Linked DNA regions of Homo sapiens. The protein of the gene in region 1 interacts with the protein of each later gene in a biochemical or structural test. Each region holds a gene or a part of one and is shown in the gene's direction. Other genes may lie near its edges.

Evidence for each region.
Region 2: the proteins of CDK18 (region 1) and PDZK1 interact in a test that uses a peptide from one of them, tested with the Homo sapiens proteins (one large-scale study listed by IntAct).
Region 3: the proteins of CDK18 (region 1) and GOPC interact in a test that uses a peptide from one of them, tested with the Homo sapiens proteins (one large-scale study listed by IntAct).
Region 4: the proteins of CDK18 (region 1) and PDZD2 interact in a test that uses a peptide from one of them, tested with the Homo sapiens proteins (one large-scale study listed by IntAct).
Region 5: the proteins of CDK18 (region 1) and ARHGEF11 interact in a test that uses a peptide from one of them, tested with the Homo sapiens proteins (one large-scale study listed by IntAct).
Region 6: the proteins of CDK18 (region 1) and SIPA1L2 interact in a test that uses a peptide from one of them, tested with the Homo sapiens proteins (one large-scale study listed by IntAct).
Region 7: the proteins of CDK18 (region 1) and ARHGAP21 interact in a test that uses a peptide from one of them, tested with the Homo sapiens proteins (one large-scale study listed by IntAct).

What each region holds. Positions count from the first base shown.
Region 1 is NC_000001.11:205,507,669-205,511,168, forward strand, and holds part of CDK18 (cyclin-dependent kinase 18), read left to right. Parts: intron 1-3,500. UniProt on the Homo sapiens protein: May play a role in signal transduction cascades in terminally differentiated cells.
Region 2 is NC_000001.11:145,700,869-145,704,368, reverse strand, and holds part of PDZK1 (Na(+)/H(+) exchange regulatory cofactor NHE-RF3), read left to right. Parts: intron 1-3,500. UniProt on the Homo sapiens protein: A scaffold protein that connects plasma membrane proteins and regulatory components, regulating their surface expression in epithelial cells apical domains.
Region 3 is NC_000006.12:117,592,512-117,596,011, reverse strand, and holds part of GOPC (Golgi-associated PDZ and coiled-coil motif-containing protein), read left to right. Parts: intron 1-3,500.
Region 4 is NC_000005.10:31,642,131-31,645,630, forward strand, and holds part of PDZD2 (PDZ domain-containing protein 2), read left to right. Parts: intron 1-3,500.
Region 5 is NC_000001.11:157,035,743-157,039,242, reverse strand, and holds part of ARHGEF11 (rho guanine nucleotide exchange factor 11), read left to right. Parts: intron 1-3,500. UniProt on the Homo sapiens protein: May play a role in the regulation of RhoA GTPase by guanine nucleotide-binding alpha-12 (GNA12) and alpha-13 (GNA13). Acts as guanine nucleotide exchange factor (GEF) for RhoA GTPase and may act as GTPase-activating protein (GAP) for GNA12 and GNA13.
Region 6 is NC_000001.11:232,511,634-232,515,133, reverse strand, and holds part of SIPA1L2 (signal-induced proliferation-associated 1-like protein 2), read left to right. Parts: coding exon 1-1,277; intron 1,278-3,500.
Region 7 is NC_000010.11:24,594,888-24,598,387, reverse strand, and holds part of ARHGAP21 (rho GTPase-activating protein 21), read left to right. Parts: intron 1-378; coding exon 379-443; intron 444-804; coding exon 805-941; intron 942-1,505; coding exon 1,506-1,648; intron 1,649-2,344; coding exon 2,345-2,500; intron 2,501-2,592; coding exon 2,593-2,671; intron 2,672-3,197; coding exon 3,198-3,271; intron 3,272-3,348; coding exon 3,349-3,438; intron 3,439-3,500. UniProt on the Homo sapiens protein: Functions as a GTPase-activating protein (GAP) for RHOA and CDC42. Downstream partner of ARF1 which may control Golgi apparatus structure and function. Also required for CTNNA1 recruitment to adherens junctions.

The sequences.
Region 1 (3,500 bases):
CACAGTGCCTGGCATGTAGCAGAGACTAAATAACTGGTAGCTATAGTGGTTGGTGGTGCTTGTTTGGAAAGGGAATTTCCTGGTGATTGCACCAGGGCTGGTCTAGAGACCAAGGTAGATTTTCCCAGCCCCATCAGGCCAAGCCCTTAGTTAGACAGAATCTTTACTGCTCTTCCAGGTTAGGGAGGAGGGCTCTGTGTAAGAGAATGGTGGTGGTGGTAGGGGAATGGGTTGGATGGAAATCTTCCAGGAGGGGCCAGGAATCTGTGCTGTGGGGGCCCTACCTTCTGGCAGTTATGAATGAGGCAGGCACTGGGAGCTGGAGAGGCAGCAGTCTCTTGCTCTGAGGGCCCTCTGGCAGCGCCTTCTTTCCCTGAGGTAGGAGGACCCTCCCCTGGTACTTAATTAATTGCAGTCCCTGTTCTGCTCTGTTGTTCAGGGTGAGTGGCTGGCCTGGTTCCAGGCCCACCTGATTAGCCCACCTTTGGCAATAAGTCACATTTCTCTTCCTCGGCTCTGTGTCCCACCATAACCCCTTACGTCCCCTTCCCTGGACTTTTCACCTTTGCCCTCCAGGCATTCCCTGCTGAGTGGGCACTTTCCCACATCCAGGGGGTGGGAGCAGACCAAGGTTAATCTTGTCCTGGCTCCCACAGCTGCTTACACACACACAGCTGCATGCACATGCACACACAGGCTGGGCTCACAACAGCTCAGGCCAAGGGTCTGGGATCCAGGATCACTACAGAGCTGGTAGCTGGGCCTGGCTGGAGCTGGCCAGTGGTTCAGCAGCAAGTCTGGAAGAGGAAAAGCCGTGGGCGCATCTCCGCCAGACCTCCTGTCTGAAAGAGAGCCCATCTGCTCCTAGAATCTCCACAGCTACATCTGCAGAGGAGGAGGGGTAGTGAGGCAAGTGTGAGGTTTGGTTTTAAACTGAAAAGGGAGGTGGGCGGATTGCTTGAGCCCAGGAGGTCGAAACCAGACTGGGCAACATGGCAAGACCCCATCTCTAAAAAAATACAAAAATTAGCCAGGTGTGGTGGCACGCGCCTGTAGTCCCAGCTACTCGGGAGGCTGAGAGGGGAGGATCGCTTGAGCCTAGGAGGTTGAGGCTGCAGTGATCCATGATTGCATCACTGCACTCCAGCCTGGGCAACAGAACAAGAACTTGTCAAAAAAAAAATTGAAAAGGGTCTTAGGCCGGGTGTGGTGGCTCATGCCTGTAATCCCAGCACTTTGGAAGGCCAAGGCGGGTGGATCACTTGAGGCCAGGAGTTTGAGACCAGCCTGGCCAACATGATGAAACCCTGTTTCTCCTAAAAATACAAAAATTAGCTAGGCATGGTGGCGTGTGCCTGTAATCCCAGCTACTCGGGAGGCTGAGGTAGGAGGATCGCTTGAACCCAGGAGGTGGAGGTTGCAGTGAGCCGAGGTCGCACCACTGCACTCCAGCCTGGGCGAGAAACAAAACAAAACAAAACAAAAAACGGGTCTTGAAGCAAAGCTCCCTGACAGCATGAGTAACCCTGAAGAGACTGGACACCTTGCTCTGGGAGACATGGGCCAGAACTTTTGAAAGGACTATGATGAGATCCTCTTTCCTGGAGCTCTTGATAATGGTCCCACCCTCTGAGCCTCCCTACCCCCACCATTAAATAAAAGTCTTCCCTAGAAATGGTGGAGTCGGGATAGACAAGATGACCCAATAATGGCTGGCTGGTGCACTCATCATTATTTATATGTTGAGTGTATGTCTCCTGTCCACCATGGGTGGAGGCAATTTATGGACTTTGGGGTCAGTTCAGATTCTGCCTCTTCCACTCAGTAACTGGTTGCCTTAGGTTAAGTAATTTGCTCACCCAGGTTTCAGTTTCCTCATTTATAAAATAGGAGGATAATACTATTATCTCATGTGATTGCGAGGACTCCAGTGAGATAATGTCCACCTAGTAGCTCTTTGCTTTACCTGATGTCATTATCAAGGGGTGGTGGCAGAGTTAATGGGCTACATTTGGTAGTTCTCAGTGCCTTTGGCCCCACTTGATATTTTTTTCTGAAATCAGGGTCCCTGCAAACATCAGGGATCAGCCCCCAAATTGGGAAGAGAACTCTATTCTTAAAATGTTTCTGGCCAGGCACAGAGGCTCACACCTGTAATCCCAGAACTTTGGGAGGCCGAGGTAGGTGGATCACCTGAGGTCAGGAGTTCAAGACCAGCCTGGCCAACATGGCGAAACCCCATCTCTACTAAAAATACAAAAATTAGCCAGGCATGGTGGCAGGCACCTGTAATCCCAGCTACTCCAGAGGCTGAGGCACGAGAATCGCTTGAACAAGGGAGGCAGAGGTTGCAGTGAGCCAGGATTGTACCACTGCACTCCAGACTGGGTGACAGAGCAAGACTTTGTCTCAAAAAAAAAAAAAAAATTTCTACCCTCCCTCACTCTGAACACTGTTCCCCATCTTATCATTATCGAGGGAAATTCAGAGCTCCAGAATGATTACTGCCCTCACACCTTGCTTCCCTAAAGAAGCCTGCCCTTTTCTGCCTGGGGAGTCTCCTCAGGAACCAGACCTTCTTCTCTTCTCTGGCCCCAGCCACCCAGCACCCTGGGCTGCGGGGTGACCAGCCCAGGAGGTGACAGGGCTGTCCTTCCCACATCCTGGCAGGACCCACTGCCTGGAAGCAGGTGGGCGGTAGGTGTTATGCTAGAGGGCATCACTCTTGACAAAGCAGCACTGGCTCCCAAACTCTGCCTGCAACATGGGATGAGCCCAGGAAAGGGGTCACAGAGCCCCTCCCTGATCCTGCCGTGGAGCCCAGCTGGCAGCATCCCCTGCCGTGGCTGGGCTGGGTGCCATGTTCTGTGTGGGTGCCAAACCTGGCATGGCTCCTTCCCAAGGAAGGTGGCCCTTGGGGATGCTGTGACTTTCTTGGCTGTGGTGACCAATAAAGGGAGTGCCATCTCTACGCAGGCCCATGCAGTCCCTTCCAACCCTGCACAAAGTCAGAAGCCCAAAGTGTGGTCCCAGCTCTGCCCTGTCACCCTCAGTGGCCTCGGGCAGATCGCTCACCTTTCTGAGTCTTGCCTTCTTTGCCTGAAACATGAGGGTGCAGACCAGGGGATTTCCAAAGGCCCCTCTGAGGCTGCTGGTCTGAGGCTCCGACTTTTGCCTGTCCTGCTAACAAGGTGAGCTGTGTGCTGGGGTCCCAAGAGGGGCTCAGCCTCCTGTTCCTCCAAACTGTAGAGCCAGGGGCTTGCCCCAGCTGATGGCTGGGTACCTGGTCCCTGCCATGCTGAGATGGGCAAGGAAATCCTGGAATGCCTCAGCCCTGTCAATTAGGAGGAGAACAACTACCTCGCAAAGAAATGGATGCTGGATTCAAACACTACACAGGCACTGGATGCTCAAGGCTAGGGGTTGGCAAACCATGGCTCTTGGCCAAGTCCCGACAGTTTTTGTATGGCCCATGAGCTAAGAATGATTTTTACATTTTT
Region 2 (3,500 bases), about 60 Mb from region 1:
CTAGAGAAGGTTTGCTTTTGGTCTGAGGTGGTCACTGGTTTCTGAGGTGCCAAGCCTGGTTGGAGGCACAGATAGTCAGCATTCATAAAGCTGCGTAGAACCATGGGGTCCCAATGGGGACATGAAACTAAATGATCCAGAAAAGCCCGTGGACTTTCCACCAGTTGTATTGAATACATACCTGATGGTGTGAGAATACAGAAAGGGGCTGTGGTGCCTGCTCTTAAGAAAGCTTATCTTGGCTGGGCATGATGGCTCACGCCTGTAATCCCAGCACTTTGGGAGGCTGAGGAGGGTGGATCACTTGAGGTCAGGAGTTTGAGACCAGCCTGGCCAACATAGTGAAACCCCATCTCTACTAAAAATACAAAAAGTAGCCGGGTGTGGTGGCGGGTGCCTTCAATCCCAGCTTCTCAGGAGGCTGAGGCAGAAGAATTGCTTGAATCCAAGTGGCAGAGGTTGCAGTGAGCCGAGATCGCACCACTGCACTCTAGCCTGGACCACAAGAGCAAGATTCCATCCCTCCTGGCCAAAAAAAAAAAGCTTATCTTGTTGGGGACACACGACATGGATCCTGAAGCTCCTCTATAGTCTACTGGACTGAGTCCAGTGCTCACAGTCTAACCTACTTCTTTTTTTCAACATATAACTGTGCTCTGATCTTTCTGAACCATTCACCATTCTGGGAATGCATCTCCTGCTGTTCCTTCTGCCTGGGATGACTTCCTCTTCCTAGTCTGACTACTTGTATTTCCAGAATACATTCTACACCTCAGGCCTGGGAGGCAGGGTAGATGGTGGAAGGAATCCAGACTCAACTGGGTTTGAATCCAGACTCTGCTTATCCAAATAGTCAGGGGAAACCAAGTTAACTTTTCAGAGTCTCTTTTCTTTTTCCTTGTAAAATGGCCCATCAGGATTGAATCAGAACCCATAAAAAGTACCTAGGCTGGTTCCTAATCCTAGTAGGGAGCTCAATAAATATATATAACAATAAGAAAGCTTTTGTATTTAAATATTCCAGCACCCACAACGTTGTTCAGCAGTTAAACTTCATAACTCTCCCCACTGGACTCCAGGCTCTTTCAGGGCAGGACGGTAGCTATTCTGGGTTGAGCCCTGATACCTGCCTCGCAGTAGGTATTACATAGAACTTGTTAAGTACATGAGCGATAACTGAAATTCAGAAGATGAAATGATACCTTCAGACTGTGGTGGTCATGGAAGGATTCGTATATAATCTAAAATTTGAACTGAGCCTTGAAAATGGTAGGTCTTAAATTCGTTCACTTGGAACAAATGTTTACTTAGCACGTACTATGAGTAAGTGCTCATGGGGCATGAGCAAAGGGCAGGCTCGTGTGGGTGACCATGCATAGACCAATTGGGGCTTGCTGAGGAGCTGGGGGCCTGAGGTAGGGCTGGATTATGCTGAGCCTCAGTGCCTGAGCAAGAAGCTTGAACTTCTTTTTTTTTGAGACGGAGTCTTGCTCTGTTGCCCAGGCTGGGGTGCAGTGGCACGATCTTGGCTCACTGCAAGCTCCGCCTCTTGGGTTCACACCATTCCCCTACCTCAGCCTCCCGAGTAGCTTGGACTACAGGCGTCCGCCACCACACCCAGCTAATTTTTTGTATTTTTAGTAGAGATGGGGTTTCACTGTGTTAGCCAGGATGGTCTCGATCTCCTGACCTCGTGATCCGCCTGCCTTGGCCTCCCAAAGTGCTGGGATTACAGGCGTGAGCCACTGCACCCGGCCGAGCTTCTTTTTCTTGAATTATTATTATTATTATTTTTGAGATGGTAGTATAATAAAACCAGGGTTAGAAAGTTTGTCTCGAGGCAAGACTCTTGTAGTAGTTTAAACATACCAAAAAAAAAGTGGGGGGGTAGAAATGCAAGTTCAAAAAGTCACAAAATGTCGATTTGGGGAAAGCACTTGTCTCAGCTGGCACTCAAGGCGGTTGAGCTGTCTATCAGCAGCATGAGGGTGTCCTCTCTCTGTGGGTGCCTCTGTTTCCACACAATATTGGCTCTATCCCTCTCCCAACTCATAGAACTCTTAGATAAGCAATCAAACTGTGAAAGGCCTTGAACTCCAGCCCAGAGTCTTGCCATATAGGACAAAGTATTGTTTATGGTGGCTGGAGGTAGGGAAGGTACTTAGTATCAGCAGGCCAAATGAACTTTGGGATAAGTAGATTCCATTCTTGATCATAAATGAGAAATAAAAACTACTCAGTGGGTCTGGGATCACTCTTCTCCAGATAATTCTCAATGGAATGGATTTCATTGATTTCTCATATTTGAAATTTATCCCTGGCTAAGACCAAACAGTAACTATCACAATGGGAAAGTACACTAGGCAAATACATATTTTAGAATCTTGCTTCTCCTTCTATTTTTGATATTAATTATTTAAAGTAAATATACTTGAGTATTTGAATTTCCATATGCTTTGCTTTTCAGAGGAGAAATCCAGGCAGCCTTAAATATGATCTGCATAAAAATATAGGATCTGTTCTAGGTAAAATATATTTGAAGAAGGGTGAAATTGAGTTGTCTTTATCTCTTCCTTGCTAGAGACATCTGTCAGTAGCAGCTCAGATACAGCAGGATTTTTTTGCTTATGCTGTTGGAAGGAACAGCATGTGCCAAGGCTCTGTGGCAGGCTCTGAAGGAGGCCAGCCATGGCTGGTGTGAGGCATGAAGCCTTGGAGTCAGGGCTGATGCCTGTAGGGAATTCTCAGCCTGTCTATAGTTGCTGGCTTAATGTTGCACAGTCTCCACCAACTGTATTTTCCTAACAAAAGTCTAGTGGGTTTGTTTTCTTCTTTCTTGTTACACAGATGCACACAAGTGCTGCAAGAACAGCATTCCTCAAAGTGCACACTGTGGTCAAGCGTCCTGAGAATGTGGCTTTTTTCTTGCTAAAGTTCAGAGTGTTTTATAGGCAAGCATGGAGTTCAGTGGAAAGCAAGTAATGTCTAGGTTTAATGTTGCCGGAGAGACCCTGCCCTTTCTTTTCCTTATGCCTCAACAAAACAGAAGTAACTTACTCTATGGTTTCATACTAGATTATACAATCAGATACCCTTCCACAGTCAGAGTAACTAGGGTTAAACATTCCTCACCAGCAGTCCTGCTAAGTGTTTGTTTTTTTTTTGAGATGGAGTCTCGCTCTGTTGCCCAGGTTGGAGTGCAGTGGTACTATCTTGGCTCACTGCAACCTCCACCTCCTGGGTTCAAGCAATTCTCCTGTCTCAGCCTCCCGAGTAGCTGGGACTACAGGCGTGTGCCACCACACCCAGCTGATTTTTGTATTTTTAGTAGAGACGGGGTTTCACCATATTGGTCAGGCTGGTCTCAAACTGCTGACCTCAGGTGATCCTCCTGTCTCAGCCTCCCAAACTGCTGGGATTACAGGCATGAGCCCCCGCGCCCAGCCCCTGCTAAGTTTTTAGTGTTTAGTGTTTTCATGGATTGAGTGTTGGTTATGTAA
Region 3 (3,500 bases), on another chromosome or scaffold:
TGGGAATGTAAACCACCAACCACTATGAAAAACAGTGTGGAGATTCCTCAAAGAACTAAAAGTAGATCTACCATTTGATCCAGCAACCCCACTCCTGGGTATTTACCCAGAGGAAAAGAAGTCATTATATGAAAAAGATACTTGCAAACATGTTTATACTAGCACAACTCATAATTGCAAAAATATGGAACCAGCCCAAATACCCATCAATCAATAAGTGGATTAAAAAAATGTGGTGTGTATATATACAGACACCTGGAATATTACTCAGCCATAAAAAGGAATGAAATAGTGGCACTTGCAGCAACCTGGGTGGAATTGATTGGAGACCATTATCTAAATGAAGTAACTCAGGAGTGGAAAACAAAATGTATGTTCTCACTCATACATGGGAGCTAAGCTAGGAGGATGCAAAGGCATATGAATGATACAATGGACTTTGGGGATCTGGAGTAAAGGGTGGGAAGGGGATGAGGGATAAAAGATGACACATTGGATACAGTGTACACTGCTCAGGTGATGGGTGCACCAGAATCTCAGAAATCACCACTAAATAACTTATTCACATAACCAAACCCCACCTGTTCCCCAGAAACCTATTGAAAAAACAAAACAAAACCCAAACAAACAAAACAAAACACAACTGAGTTCCTTTCCATTGTGAGGCCTAGAGAGGCATTGGAATGAAACCGCAGTTATGGCACTCCCTTTTGACCTAAGCAGTTATCTCTGGAAGCCACCTTCTATGTAGGATTTAGACTAACTGACGCCAAGTAGCCATAAAATACCATATGCTGGACACCATAAGTCATACCTTATAGTGCAACAATGAATAGCCAGTCACTAATCAGTGATTGTAAACCAATGAGAATTCTTATCAAGCAACTTTGTATCTGCCTTGTTCCTTTTTCCCTTTAAAATCTGCTTGTAACTCAGGTGCCAGAGCACTCCCCAGGCATCTGGGAAATATGTGTTGAGTAGCTGTCCTCATTTTGGCTCAGGTAAACTAAAGTATATTTTGTGCCTCAGCCTTTTCCTTTTAGGTTTACAGTAGGAATAGTAATACTAGCAGTAGTAGGTGTGTTGGAATAGAATAAAGATTGTGAACCAATACTTTAAAAAATTCACCTCTGCCTTGAAAGAGTGTTCTGCCTGTTACTCCTTTTTTAAAGTAACAGCACAACAATACACCTTCTTTCACATCCTCCTTTCCCTCAGCAATTGCTCTGTTAGTATCTCTTTGAAGTGATTTATTATTCATAGCCAACAGTAGAGAAACTTTTAACTTTGATCTAGAGCCACATTGATAATGAACTGGTGATATGCTTGTCCCTTTGCTGCTTTAAATCTGTCCTGTTTTTAAATAGGCTGTTTTGCAACATTGAAGCTTAAGTTTAATATTGATCCAGTACGCACTTATGAACACGAATTATGTGCCAGATGCTGTATTGGGCACTTAGGATACAATGGAGAGCAAAAAAGGGATGTAGTCATGGCTTTTATGGAGTTTGGATTATATTGGAGGAATTTGTTGGGAGAATAATCATGTAAATGAGAAATTGCAACTTTGATGAATACTATGAAAGGTACATAAGAGTAAATGAGACCCTATTTTGGGATGTCAGAGAAGGCTTCCCTGAGGAAGTTATTGAGCTAAGACATAAAGGAATTATGTGTAAATAGGAATGAATTAAGCTAAGAGAAATAGGAATGCCATTCAACATTGCCGTAGAGGGAATGGGAAGTGAAAAGCACCTGTGGTGGGCAAGCGCATAGTGCATTTGAAGATTCGAGAGATAGTTGGTATGTGTAACAAGAGAAGAGGGCAAAAGAAGCAAGGCACAAGATAAGTTTGAACAGACAGAGAGGGACTATTTCTACATGACTTTATGGCCATGCAAAAATATTTGGGGCTTTATCATAATCGTGGGAAGTCTTTTAAACCAGTTCGTAGCCTCAGATATGAAGTTAGAATAGTTCACTCTGACTATGGTATGGAGAAAATTGCAGAGAATGACATGAATGAATGCAGAAAATTGTTTAGAAGGTTTCTGTTTATGTGAGATTATGATAGTGTGGAGTAAGATAATAGAGGTAGGAGAAGGTATTCAGAACAAGAGAAACTGGAGAGGTAAAAATAAAAAAAACCTAGAGATGGATTGGAACAGAGGGATGAGGGAGTTCAGGATAAATCCAAGTGACAATCTTGTGCAGCTGGTTGCCTGAATAGATAGATGAATGTGTTATATTATTAGCAATAACAATATTGCCAACTTTATTGATCAGTTACCATGGGCCAACCTCTCTTCTGAGTCTTTTACATAGACTGATTCATCCAATTCTCACAACAGTCCTGGAAACAGGTTTATTAGTATAGTTACTCCAACTTTACAGGGATTAAGTAAGAGGCCTGAGGCTACGGAGCTAGAGAAATCAGTCTCTGCACAAACACATTATGTCTGATGGGGGATGGAGGAGGTGGAGAGAGAAGCAGACAGAAAGAGTGAGTGTGGCTGAATAGATAGCAAGAAGTGAGATTGTAGGGTACAAGGGAGGTTTTGTTTTCATTTTGTTTTTAAATAAAAACAAATAAAACATAAGTCTGTGAGAAGCATCTACTTGAGAGAAAAGCCAAATATAGAAAAAGAGTGGGGTAGTTAATATTAGTAAGATTTTGTAATAACAGCTACTTAGAAGAGGGAGAGAATGGGAGCAGACAGTAGGAGGTTGTGGAAGTTTCTGTCTGATGGCTTTTTTTTTTCTGTAAAATAGGAGCCCACGTCAGTTGCTAAAAGTAGGTGAGAGTAAGAGCATGAGGCTAGTAGAAGAGGTTTGAGATAGTAATGGAAGAGTGGGAGAGCCAATTGGCCAGAGAAACAGGACTGCCAGGCATTGTTGAGGAATGGCTTGGGGTTAGTTATCATAAATTATGGTGCAACCGGTCTGTACTGTTGTGTGATTTTCTCTAGCAATGCATATCTGTTTAGGTACAGGCACAGTAATGAGAGTAATAACTAGGTTTATTCAATGTTATAGCAAAGGAGTTTGTTATACAGACAAGTGTGTTATTGAAGTGAAAGTGGTAATGGGGCTGATGAAAAGGAGATAAATTGAAGACTAAGGAAGGAGAATTGACAGGATTTGATAATTATGTAGATGCAGGAGATAAGAGAAAGGGTTAAGGATAACACTGCATTTCTGTTTGGGAAATGATTGATCAGTATCTGTAGTGGGTTGAATCGTATCCCTCCAAAATTCATATCCACCCCCAAAACCTCAGAATGTGACCTTATTTAGAAAGAGGGTCTTTGCAGGTGTAATTATGTAAAGATGGAGGTAAGATTATAGTGGATTAGAGGGGGCCCTAAATCCAATGAAAGTGTGCTGATAGGAGACAGAAAAGGCCACACACAGACACAGAGAAGAAGGCTATGTGATGATAGAAGCAGAGATTGGAGTGATGTATCTACAAGCCAAGGGATGCCAGTGATTGCCAACAG
Region 4 (3,500 bases), on another chromosome or scaffold:
CCTACTGCACCATCCACAAGGGGACAAATTCCAAAGATGAACCCACAAAAGGTCAGGAGCAAATCCAAAGAGAGGCTGAATCTCTTTAAGAAGACAGACTTAGAGACTCAAGTTTTCAGCTTCTTTCTTCTGCCCTCAGACACATCCCCGCAGCACCAGGGAGGATGCTGAGGTCAGAGTTGAGTTTCAAGGACAGGAAGAGCTATGCAGACAAGCCCATGAGAGAGGTTAGCAGACAAGTGGAGAGGCAGGGATGTCTCAGAGACGCCCATCCCCAGAAGGATGATAGGAAAAGGCCACTGATAGAACAGTGTCTGCAAGGGGTGTTCATGAAGCCAGGCTGCAAGGGAAGAAGGAGACAATGATTGCCAAGACAGTGAAACTGCAGGTATAGACACTGGATCCAGAAGTGTGCTGTTTGAAAATAATCCACAGTATTTTGAGGAGGTTGTAGCATTGAAGGAGGGTTTATTCATGAGAGTCCCTCCATTCTCCCTCCCAGGCATGTTTGGTAAACAAAAGAGATGTGGGAGAGAGTAGAGAAGCTAGATCAGGGGTGTTTGGGCTGGAAGAGGTGAGCAAGTGCAGGGAAAGAACAATCCTGGCATCTGCCTTCTCTGGAAGGCCAGAGGGAAGCAGAGGTTGGTGAGGCCCTGGAGAGAATGAGGAAAACAGGGGAGGCATTTGCTGAGACCTGGGGTCACTTCGTGAAGCTGGGGCCTGGAGGAAAGGGCTGCGGTACTGCTGCCTGCCAGGGGAAGCAAACCCGGCACCTGGCACCAGTGGAGGCAGCCAGGAGGGAAAGGAAGGACTCCTGAGTTGGGGTCAGAGGCTTTGGCTGGAATCCTAGCAGTGCAGAGAACTTCCTGCTGGGCCAGATGATTAGAAATGTTGAAGCCTCCATTTGCTCATGTATAAAATTGATGCAGTCGCTACTTCACAGGGTTGTTCTTAGGAGGAATCGAAAGAGGTACTAAGGTGTGTTTGGAAGGCCCTCCATGACCGCATCTGCTGTATAGGGGGTCCTTTCGAACAGTGTGTCCAGAAATGCATAAACCTCTCACCAAAGTCAGTGAGAGCCCAGTGGAATGGAGAAGGCAGGAGTTTTTAGCAGACTTGCCTGAAGCTTTCTTTCAGCTGTGGATGAAAAGTTTTGGACTACTCTGAGCAGTTGGGTCTCCCTGTTTGCACCTTGACAAATCCTTCAAGATTTCTGCCTTTTAATCCATTGGCTTGTTGCAGTGCTGCGTCTAAATTTAATGTCCCTCTCTTTTGCAAAGATCCAGTTACCAGGTGCAAGGCAGGAAGAGGCTGGACAGTCTCCTCTGTCCTCCATGGTTTGGAAGGGCATCATGCACTCACACTCGGTAACACCTGCATTTGAGGAAGCTAAGGCCCAGAAAAACAGAGAACTTGCCCCATTAGACAACCAGAACTAGAGTCACAAAACACAGTTGCTTGATCTGGGGAACTCTTGTCTTTCAATAGCAGTGGTGTTGGCCAAGATGCAGGTGGCTGAGGAAGAATTAAAAATCTGCAATCCCCCTTGGTTTTATTAATGGGTCTTTGATTATAGTTGAAAAGATGAAAAAACAGTCTCACTTATTAGTGAAGCGGGAAAGAAAAGGAGCATTTGACTTACTAAACACTAAGTAGATATGTGCCAAATTAAATGAAATTGGGGAAAATGTGAATAATTTTTTTTTTTTTTGAGACAGGGTCTCACTCTGTCACCCAGGCTGCAGTGGCATGACCACGGCTCACAGCAGCCTTGACCTCCCCGGCTCCAGTGATCCTTCCACCTCAGCCTCCCAAGTAGCTGGGAAGCTGGGACTACAGACACCACCGCACCTGGCTAATTTATTATTTTTTAAAAATTTTTTGTAGAGATGGGGTTTTACCATGTTGCCCAGGCTGGTATCAAACTCCTGGGCTCAAGCGATCCACCCACCTCAGCCTCCCAAAGTGCTGGGATTATAGGCATTGAAGAATGTTTTTTAAGGAAATTAAAGTATAGAATTATCTGGAAAATTTTCTGAAATTATTCCTTATTTTCCAACCGGATGGTCTATGTCTAGATTTGGACCTATGCATCGGTTGCATATAAAAGGATAGATCTTTTTATGGTATCTAGAAATTTGACAATCTTGATCTCCTATTATCCATACTTTAGAAATAGAGAAAAGATGGAATTGGAAAAGAATACATTTCCCATGGGTTCTAGCGGGGAGTGTTTGAAGCCAGGTAGGTCATCTGATTCAGTCTGATTGTCTGAGAGCTAAAGAGTTCTGCCTTCTATTTACAAATGTGTTCAAGAAGACACTGGGAGCATTTACAATTTGAAAACTTAATAGTTGAAGAGGCCTTTTGTGGTCTGATAAGGCGGCTGAGCCGAGAGATGGTTTGTTAAGACACTAAGCATGCGGAGAAGACACATTTGTCTTTTAAGCCTCTCCAGCTCCAGGAAGAGGCCTACCCCCGGCCGTGGCTTCTCTCCAATGCCAGTAGTGTGTTCACCCCACACTCTTGATGGGGCCAGCAAACAGTCTCCATTCTGAAAGTTCTGGCTGCTCCATGCATGCATTCCCTACCAGAATGCGTTCTGAGTGAATAATGAGTGGTCTATGAACTTCCAGAAAATCAGAAACTTAAGATTCTCAACTCTCTTTATGAAGCCATTGAATGAAACCAGATAGCATTGAACACCTGGTTGACAAAGTTATTCTTGGATTATATGTTTTTATATACAGTGTTTCTGGGGCTCATCAAGCCCTCTAGGTAGGAGGCCTGAAGAGGTTTTGGAGAAGCAGCATTGGGGGAACCGACTTCACAGCACAGAGGATTAATTTTGCACACACAATTGTTGCGAGCTCTGAATGAAATAATAGCAAGGAGATGGGGGAAGTTTTGTTGTCTTTTAAGTCTAAGAAGCAGCCTGAAATGCCTAGATATCCACAGGAGGATTTAAAAAATCACAAATTCTTAAGGATCTGCAAGTCCTTGAAAGGGCATTATCCAATCTCTTGCCTTCAGGGAGGAATAAACTTAGCTCATTCCAGTTAAGGATCTATGGTTTTAACAGCTTCCTGAGGAAGGGGCGTCCATGGCATATTTGGCCCTTAACACAGTGATGCCCCAGACTGGTTCTTTGAGGTGTTTTAGCAGGAGTCGAAATGGATTTCAGAGGGGTTACTCTTGGTCTCTTTTTTTTTTTTTTTTTTTTTGAGACGGAGTCTTGCTCTGTCGCCCTGCCTGGAGTGCAGTGGCGCGATCTTGGCTCACTGCAACCTCTGCCTCCCAGGTTCAAGTGATTCTCCTCCCTCAGCCTCCTGAGTAGCTGGGACTACAGGTGCGTGCCACCACACCCAGCTAATTTTTGTATTTTTAGTAGAGACGTGGTTTCACCATGTTGGCCAGGATGGTCTTGATCTCTTGATCTTGTGATCCGCCTGCCTTGGCCTCCCGAGGTGCTGAGATTACAGGCGTGAGCCGCTGTGCCC
Region 5 (3,500 bases), about 48 Mb from region 1:
TGTCCTTTCAGTGGGCCAAATGGTTTTTCAGAAATCATTGTCTGGCTTTCCTGAAAATCAGTGAAAATGAAAGCTTGAAAAGAACAGAGAACAAAGCTGCCTGATCAAATGGGAGAGAAGATGGAAGTACAGGGACATGGAAACATGGGGAGGAACTGAGAAATCCATGGCCCCTAATAGAATTGGAATAGGATTTGGAAGGTGGTTTTGTTTTTTGTTTTTTGGGACAGGGTCTCACTCTGTCGCCCAGGCTGGAGTGCAGTGGCATGATCATGGCTCACTGCAGCCTTGACCTCCCCAGGCTCAGGTGGTCCTCCCACTTCAGCCTCCTGAGTAGCTGGCATTACAGGCATGTGCCACCACACCTGGCTAATTTTTGTAGATATGAGGTTCACCATGTTGCCCAGAGTGGTCTCAAACTCCTGAACTCAAGCAATCTGCCCACCTCGGCCTCCCAAAGTCCCAGGATTATGGGTGCAAGCCACCACGCCAGGCCTGGAAGGTGTTCTTAAGGTCTGGAAGAATACCCCAATTTATTGTACTAAAACAATTGGACAGATTTCAGGAAAAAATCACAAAAATCTGGCAGGACTTCAAGGGATCCTCTTGCCCTTTACTCTGGACTCCAAATAGGGTGTCTCTTAACCTAGTAAAGACAGGTTGAAGGCCTCTCCCATTTTCAGTGATCTCTGGAGGATGGTTCCATTAGTTCAACAATTAGAAATCCCTTTGGATACGAAACTTCCTCTGCCACAATTTAAAACCATTTTATTGTCTTTCTATTGTGATTTCAGCGTAGGCCTTAAAGTCACTAGTATCCCTCTATTACCATTGTTGACTTCCTTAAGATTTTCCTCCTCATTTTAAAGAATAGCAAACTAAGACATGAATATGTGAGAAAGGGGCTTTGAAAAGTTAGAGTGAAGTAATTTCAGAGTCTTGCTTTCCAGACCCTGCTCCTTTCCAGTATTTGGGAGCAGCCACTACAAAGTGGTGTGATGGGATCTGTAGTCATCAGTCACAGCCTGGCCTCAAATCATGTAGGGAACCAATCTAGCAGCCCTCCTGGTGATGACCTGTGATCTGTGGCGCTTGACGGTTGGTTGGACTTGAAATATTTATCAGATGGCTCAGTGCAGTTCTCAGTGTTCTGAGAGATAGTACAGGAGAACATAGAGCTTACATTCTTTTTTTTTTTTTTTTTTTTTTTTTTGAGACAGTCTTGCTCTGTCACCCAGGCTGGAGTGCAGTGGCGTGATCTCGGCTCACTGCAACCTCCACCTCCTGGGTTCAAGCGATTCTCTGCCTCAGCCTCCCAAGTAGTTGGGATTACAGACACCTGCCACCACACCCGGTATACTTTTTGTATTTTTAGTAGAGACGGGGGTTTCACCATGTTGGCCAGACTGGTCTCGAACTCCTGACCTCAAGTAAACCGCCCACTTCAGCCTCCCAAAGTGCTGGGATTACAGGCATGAGCCACCGTGCATGGCCTCAAGCCTAAATGCTTGTTGGGAAATGTTATTAACAAAGCAACACAAAATAAAAAGATGGTACATAATTGCTGAATCGTTATGTACACCAAAAGGTACATTTAGAGAAGAGTGCAAGGTTGGTGCTAATAAGAATAGTCAAAGGCAGAGTAGTTAGGAATTATTCAGGTCGAAGAAAGAGAAGAGGCCATTTCAGACTAGAGGAGCAACACGAGCAAGGTTCTGTCTGGGGTGGCACCAACATGGTGTGGTCTCCAAGTGTTAAGATTATTGTAGAGCAGAGAGAAATTAGATTGATAAGATGGGTAGGGTAGGGAGAATGAAGGGATTCAGACTTTATGTGGTAGTAGAAAGGGAGCCGGGGAAGGTTTATGTATTATATGGTGATAAACATAGTGTTTAAAGAGAGAATTCTGATATTAATATATAGAGCAGAAGAGAGCTTGGGGTTAGGAAGCCTAGGAGTTTTTGTAGCAATCTTAGGAAAAGATAACGAGCTTCTGAATCAGAACGGTTATGGTGGGGACAAAGAGGAGTGGCAGGATTCCCAAGACGTTTTGGTAGCAGAATTAACCAGTATTTTAAGACTGAATCAAATTTATTTATTTATTTATTTATTTTGAGACAGAGTTTTGCTCTTGTTACGCAGGCTACAGTGCCATGGCACGATCTTGGCTCACTGCAACCCCTGCCTCCCAGGTTCAAGCAATTCTCATGCCTCAGCCTCCTGAGTAGCTGGGATTACAGGTGCCTGATCCCATGCCTGGCTAAGTTTTTATATTTTTTAGTAGAGACGGGGTTTCACCATGTTGGCCTGGCTAGTCTCAAACTCCTGATCTCAGGTGATCCGCCCGCCTCCACCTCCCACAGTGCTGGGATTACAGGTGTAAGCCACCGTGCACTGCCCTGAATCAAATTTTATTCCCAAATTTATGAGACTGGTGGACTAGGAGAAGGGTAGTGCTATTGATAGACTAGGATCTTCAGTAGAAGTCATTTTGTCTGCCATTGATACCTAGCAATTTACTGAATACAGTGGATACTTAACCTTCCTTAGACCCTTAGGTTAGGCCATTTCTACCAAATAGTTTTAGAGCTCTTCAATACAGCTTTTTAAGAGAAGCAGGAGGCTGGGCGTGGTGGCTCACGCCTGTAATCCCAGCACTTTGGGAGGCCGAGGTGGGTGGATTACCTGAGGTGAGGCGTTTGAGACCAGCCTGGCCAACATGGTGAAACCCCGTCTCTACTAAAGATACAAAAATTAGCCTGATGTGTTGGTGCACGCCTGTAGTCCCAGCTACTTGGGAGGCTGAAGCAGGAGAATCACTTGAACCCGGGAGACAGAGGTTGCAGGGAGCTGAGATCGCACCCCTGCACTCCAGCCTGGGTGACAGAGCAAGACTCTGCCTCAAAAAAACAAACAAAAAACAAACAAAAAAAAGTGAGTAGTCAGTTCTGGGAGATCCCTTAGGAAGTTGGGTCATGGTTTGAGGAGATTAGCATGTATTTGATGGATCCTGATTAATCAGCCATATATATATATGTATATATATTCATATATGTATTCATATATGTATTCATATATATATTCATATATGTATTCATATATTCATATATATATTTTCATATATATATTCATATATATTCATATATGTATTTTCATATATATATTCATATAGATTCATATATATATTCCTATATAGATTCATATATATATTCCTATATATAGATTCATATATATATTCCTATATATAGATTCATATATATATATTCCTATATATAGATTCATATATATATATTCCTATATATAGATTCATATATATATATTCCTATATATAGATTCATATATATATATTCCTATATATATTCCTATATATATTCCTATATATATTCCTAAATATATACATATATATATTCCATATATATATTCCTATATATATATTCCTGTATATATATTCCTATATATATATATTCCTGTATATATATATATTCCCACATAGCCACCCA
Region 6 (3,500 bases), about 27 Mb from region 1:
AGCTGTGCCCAAGATGGGTGTGAGAGCAAGGGTGTCTGAATGGCCTCCTAAAAAGGACTGTTCCAAGGAGCTAACATGCAAGGCACTGTGGGAAAGCCGGTCTCAGACCAGTTATGAAAGCATCACTTCTGTCCTGCAGAATGGGCAGAGTGACCAGAGTGAAGGTCAGCAAGATGAACAGCTCGATCTGGACTTCGTGGAGGCCAAGTACACAATCGGAGACATCTTTGTCCATTCCCCCCAAAGAGGACTTCACCCCATAAGACAGAGGAGCAATAGTGATGTCACTATCAGTGACATTGATGCCGAAGATGTCTTAGACCAAAATGCAGTCAACCCCAACACCGGGGCTGCCCTGCACAGGGAGTATGGAAGTACTTCATCCATCGACAGGCAAGGCTTATCTGGTGAAAACTTTTTTGCTATGCTCAGAGGGTACCGAGTAGAAAATTATGACCACAAAGCAATGGTCCCTTTTGGGTTCCCTGAATTTTTCCGCTGTGACCCTGCAATCTCTCCGAGCCTTCATGCAGCAGCACAGATTTCTAGGGGAGAATTTGTCCGCATCTCAGGATTAGATTATGTGGACAGTGCCCTCCTGATGGGGAGAGACAGGGACAAGCCTTTCAAACGGAGGTTGAAATCAGAGTCGGTGGAAACATCTCTCTTCCGAAAGCTTCGAACTGTTAAAAGTGAGCACGAAACTTTCAAGTTCACGTCTGAGCTGGAGGAGAGCCGACTGGAGAGGGGCATTCGCCCTTGGAATTGTCAGCGATGTTTTGCACATTATGATGTCCAGAGCATTTTGTTTAATATCAACGAAGCCATGGCTACGAGGGCTAATGTGGGGAAAAGGAAAAACATAACCACTGGGGCATCTGCAGCATCCCAGACTCAGATGCCTACGGGCCAGACAGGCAACTGTGAGTCCCCTTTAGGGAGCAAGGAGGACCTCAACTCCAAAGAGAACCTGGATGCCGATGAGGGTGATGGGAAAAGTAACGACCTCGTCCTTAGTTGTCCTTACTTTAGAAATGAGACTGGAGGGGAAGGCGACAGGCGGATTGCGCTCTCTCGAGCCAACTCATCCTCTTTCAGTTCTGGGGAAAGCTGCTCTTTCGAATCGTCACTCAGCTCTCACTGCACAAATGCAGGTGTCTCCGTCTTGGAAGTGCCCAGAGAAAACCAGCCTATTCACAGGGAGAAAGTGAAGCGCTACATCATAGAACACATTGACCTTGGGGCCTATTATTACCGCAAATTCTTCTATGGGAAAGGTAAGGAAGAGCCATGGGCGTTTGCATGTGTCTCGGGAGTAGTTTTTTAAGAACCAGTCACAATGTTTTGCTTTGTGTTGGAGCACCTTCCTCAGAGTGTCCAAGGCCATAGTCCACTGGGCCTGACCTTGTTCTCCATCATGGTCCCTCCATAGCTTCCAGGCTAATTTTTTCTTTAGAAAACTGCAATTCCATGCCTTTGTTTATGGGTAGTCCTTAATGTGTAAATGCCCTTTTGGTTTCTCTTTCTGTCATTCTTTGTCTGCCAATTTGTGATCATCACAAATTCAGACTTGATTTAGATTTCATCCCTTGTAAGAAGTCTTCCCTGATTAATTCTGTCCTCCTCCTATTCCTCTGAATAATCTCTTATGCTGCTTACAGTGGAAAATTCTGTGTTTCCCTCACCTCTCTAATCTTTCTGTACTTTGCTTCTCCAGCATTGCTGTATGTGTTGGACATGTTAAATCTTTGTTGAAAGAATGCCTGAATTACCACAACAGACAAATTTTGTTTTCATGTAGTTCTATAGATGGGCTTAAATGTTAAGACACAAGTGATAAATTATTTAATTCTATGTCAAATAAATGGTTTTTGCTTTACGTATATCTTCAGGCTTGAAGGATGCATTCTTCAGAGGTCATGTAGTTGAATCCTCAACCTTTAAATAAGTGTCCCTAATTATCCCAGGGCTAGGAGAATCTTCTCTGATTTAAAGACCTACAGAGAAACAGGTTCCACATGTGTCAGTAACACATGCCGAGGAAAACACTCCGGCACCTCTCACCACCTTCTTATTGGGTGCAGCTGGTGTCCTTCACGCCTTCATTATAGTGCAGCTTACTTTTCAGAGCTATATTTTTCTGTCTTCAGTTTCACCCGTCAGCCCTCTTCCTGCTCCCAGGGATCCAGGGATAACCTCACAGAGTGCCTGAGGAGGCAGAGGGTGGGCCCCGCTACTCTCCTCCTCCTTTTTCTCAGTGCATAAACTATTCTGCTTCTAGCACAGATAGCTGGGAGCTCACTGTACTTTTATTTATTTATTTTTTTTTTTACTTTAAGTTCTGGGATACATGTTCTGAACATGCAGGTTTTTTACATAGTTATACTTGTGCTATGGTGGTTTGCTGCACCTGTCAACCCATCATCTGGGTTTTAAGCCCTGAATGCATTAGGTGTTTGTCCTAAAGCTCTCCCTCCTGCTTATGAGTGAGAACATGCAGCGTTTGGTTTTCTGTTCCTGTGTTAGTTTGCTGAGAATGATGGTTTCCAGCTTCATCCATGTCCCTGCAAAGGACATGAGCTCATTCTTTTTTATGGCTACATAGTATCCATGGTGTATATGTATGGTAGTTTCTTTATCTAGTCTATCATTGATGGGCATTGGGGTTGGTTCCAAGTCTTTGGTATTGTAAATAGTGCTGCAATAAACATATGTGTGCATGTGCCTTTATAGTAGAATGATTTATAATCCTTTGGGTATATACCCAGTAATGACATTGCTGGGTCAAATGGTATTTCTGGTTCTAGATCCTTGAGGAATCGCCACACTGTCTTCCACAATAGCTGAACTAATTTACACTCCCACCAACAGTGTAAAAATGTTCCTATTTGTCCACATCCTCTCCAGCATCTGTTGTTTCCTGACTTTAATGATCGCCATTCTAATTGGCGTGAGATGGTATCTCATTGAGGTTTTGATTTGCATTTCTTTAATGACCAGTGATGATGAGCTTTTTTCATATGTTTGTTGGCCGCATAAATGTCTTCTTTTGAGAAGTGTCTGTTCATATCCTTTGCCCACTTTTTGATGGGGTTGTTTTGTTCTTGTAAATTTGTTTCAGTTCCTTGTAGATTCTGGATATTAGCCCTTTGTCAGATGGACAGATTGCAAAAATTTTCTCCCATTCTGTAGGTTGCCTGTTGCCTCTGATGATAGTTTCTTTTGCTGTGTAGAAGCTCTTTAGTTTAATTAGATCCCATTTGTCATTTTTGGCTTCTGTTGTCATTGCTTTTGCTGTTTTAGTCATGAAGTCTTTGCCCATGCCTATGTCCTGAATGGTATTGCCCAGGTTTTCTTCTAGGGTTTTTATGGTTTTAGATTTTAATTTCATCAGTATTGGTTTCTGTCTTGAGAATATTTGTGTAATTTTTGACTGTAGTTTGTTTTATTGGAGTGGGTTGGGGAGGGTGGGTAACACAGACCTTAGGAGGTCACTCTGT
Region 7 (3,500 bases), on another chromosome or scaffold:
GAAAAATCACTTACACGTATATTTCTTAAATGCTGATCATTCTTTCTGGTATTAGAGAAAACACTGGCTGCTTCCTAGTCATTTATTTTAAATGGACGGATCAATTCAATAAGTATTGAACACATGTTACTTGCTGGTACTATCCTAGGTATCGCATGGATACAGAAAAGAAGCAAAACCCTTTGGCAATGTTGGGAGGCACTTGGAAAATCTTTCACACAGTGATGTTGAATAGAAGCTTTGAAACAGCTCCACTGAGAACAGATGATAGTAGTGTTTGTGTTAAATAAGCAAAGCAGTACAATAGAAAGCCTCAAAAAAGTAAGGATCACTTATTTATGTTTAGAATTGATTTTCTAATTTTACTTTATTCTGTAGGACACTGGAGTCACTAACAGGGATCTAATTAGTCGAAGAATAAAAGAATACAACAATCTGATGAGGTGAGAATCCCACCTTGCCTGCAGTTAATTTGGATATAAAATCAGTACAGTCATCCCCCTTATTTGCAAGGATACATTCCAAGACCCCCAGTGGATGCTTGAAACCGCAGATAGTACCAAATCCTCTCTACGCTATATTTTTTCCCATATAGTAATGGGCGGGTAGTGTATACAGTGTGGCTACTCGGGATGAAAGGATGATTCTTATTCTGGGCAGGACTACAAAATTGAAAGCTTATGAATTGTTTATTCCAAGAATTTTCCAGTTAATATTTTCAGACCATGGCTCACCACGGGTAACTGAAACCATAGATAGAGGGGGATTACTGTAATTGTTAACAAATGTCATTTCCTTCAACAGCAAAGCAGAACAGTTGCCAAAAACACCTCGCCAGAGTCTCAGCATCAGGCAAACTTTGCTTGGTGCTAAATCAGAGCCAAAGACTCAAAGCCCACACTCTCCGAAGGAAGAGTCGGAAAGGAAACTTCTCAGTAAAGGTATTGATGTTAGCTTTCTAACAAATAAATATAATGATTTAAAATTGGCATCGTTGAGGTACGTTTATGTTTTCTGTACCATTTCTACTGACCAGGCCCCATGTCAACTAGCTCAAAATTCATAGTAGGCTTGGTCTGGGCTCATTGGGCCTTTCCCTTTGTGAGGCCCAAGACACCAGCTTCATTATAAAGCGAAAGTGAGGGAAAATACAAACAATACTTAAATCAGAGACATTACAAATTTAAATGACTCCGAGGATTCAGGTCCTATCATTTTGAAATAAAACTATTACTTTTCCCTTTGTTGAAGTCTCACTATAAAGATGACACACTGATTCTATGTAGTTTTTTTTTTTGCTGTTTTAAAGAAAATTATAGCACGCATTATAAAAGAATGAAGTAAAAGTTATATGGAAGAGAACATATTTTTGTTAAATATAGGATGTATTATTTATATTACAGGACTTGGATTTATGTAAACATTGATAAAGTGTTTTTAAAGTCATGATTTAGACACTCATTTCCATTTTATTATGTTGTTTTATTTTGACTGGCAATCAAAAGATGATACCAGTCCCCCAAAAGACAAAGGCACATGGAGAAAAGGCATTCCAAGTATCATGAGAAAGACATTTGAGAAAAAGCCAACTGCTACAGGAACTTTCGGCGTCCGACTAGATGACTGCCCACCAGCTCATACTAATCGGGTAGGAGACACCAGCCCACCGGATTTCCTCAAGTCATTAATTCAGTTTTGATTATAATGGGATCTGAGTATATAGCCTTTCAGACAACAGAGACTGTCAATCTGTTTTCCTTTTCATAGCAGACCTTAGTTTCCCTAAGTATTTCTGACCTGTAATGCTTTTTTTCTAATGTATTGACTCCGAAATTGAATAATTATTCAACCATTAGGAATTTGTCTGAAATGGTCTGTAAGAATTCGTCTTCAAATCGTGTGTTTCTGCTTTTAGCATTTTAAAACAAGGATGAGAACAAGGACCTGATTAAGAAAGTATAATACATGTAAATGTATGTGCATATATTTAAAACACCCATGCTAGGATTCGTATCATGAATTGATATTACTCTCTCCTCCTCTTTTCTTGACTCTTTATTCAGCGGAACGGTTTCCACATTCTCTTTACCTGTTGTTACTTCCTTTTTAGAATGTTATCTCTCTGGGGGTCCCTCTCTTTCTTTCAGTCTCTTTGTTCTCTTCTTACTGTCTCAAATATCTCTTGCAGGTTTTATCTATTCCCAGATCTATAATGTCTGTATTCTTTATATTACATAACAGCAATTTATGTTTCCTTTTGGATGAAAGGGGCATTTTAGCTGTGATATACAACTACTAAACATTTGTGCTGCATTAAATAAAATGTTTATTTCTTGTTTTGCAGTATATTCCATTAATAGTTGACATATGTTGCAAATTAGTTGAAGAAAGAGGTCTTGAATATACAGGTATTTATAGAGTTCCTGGAAATAATGCAGCCATCTCAAGTATGCAAGAAGAACTCAACAAGGGAATGGCTGATATTGATATACAAGATGATGTAAGTTTGCTTATTTGAATAACTGATCCTTTTTTTTCCCCCTTTGGTGGAACTGGATATGAAAATACTATATTTCTATTTTGTACACCTAGAAATGGCGAGATTTGAATGTGATAAGCAGTTTACTAAAATCCTTCTTCAGAAAACTCCCTGAGCCTCTCTTCACAAATGGTGAGTTAACTCCCGTGAAAGATACCAGATGAAATGGTTCAAGTTACAATTGGAAAACCATAGAATATTAAATTGAACAAGGACAAAATGTCTTGGTCAAAGGAAGCAGGAGGCTTTATTTAGTTCTCCCTCATATATTAAAAACATAAAAGTTATTTAGGTTCAGTGAAATATGTATTATCTTGTTCATACATGTTTGCAGCCAAATTAATATTATTGTTTCCAGTCAAATGGCTTCTGACATCATAAGGTACAATGAGTAGAAAAATGTTTTTTCAGTCAAGCCAAGTATTTAAGTGCCATGTAAGACACTTTACTAGATGTTGTTGGAGGGTGGGGGAGGAATGGACAGGCTGTGTAAATATAGGATGGTTCCTGCAGGGAACTTACATTTTAGAAATTTACATTTCAAAACTATTAGAACTCTTTCCTATGTTGTGGTTTAAAATTGATCCTTAAAGGGAAACTAGATTACAATTCACCTAGGCAATTTAAGATAAATTTGTTTTATTGTTCTTGTCGTCAGATAAATATGCTGATTTTATTGAAGCCAATCGTAAAGAAGATCCTCTAGATCGTCTGAAAACATTAAAAAGACTAGTAGGTATTATTTTATATTTTGGGGGATACAACTAAAATTCAGCCTCTGAATCCATTGTGAAAATAATCTGTTTCAGATTCACGATTTGCCTGAACATCATTATGAAACACTTAAGTTCCTTTCAGCTCATCTGAAGACAGTGGCAGAAAATTCAGAAAAAAATAAGGTATGTAAAATGCTTATTGAAGAAATGTACTTTTAGTGGCTTTAGTTTAAAAGATATGCTTC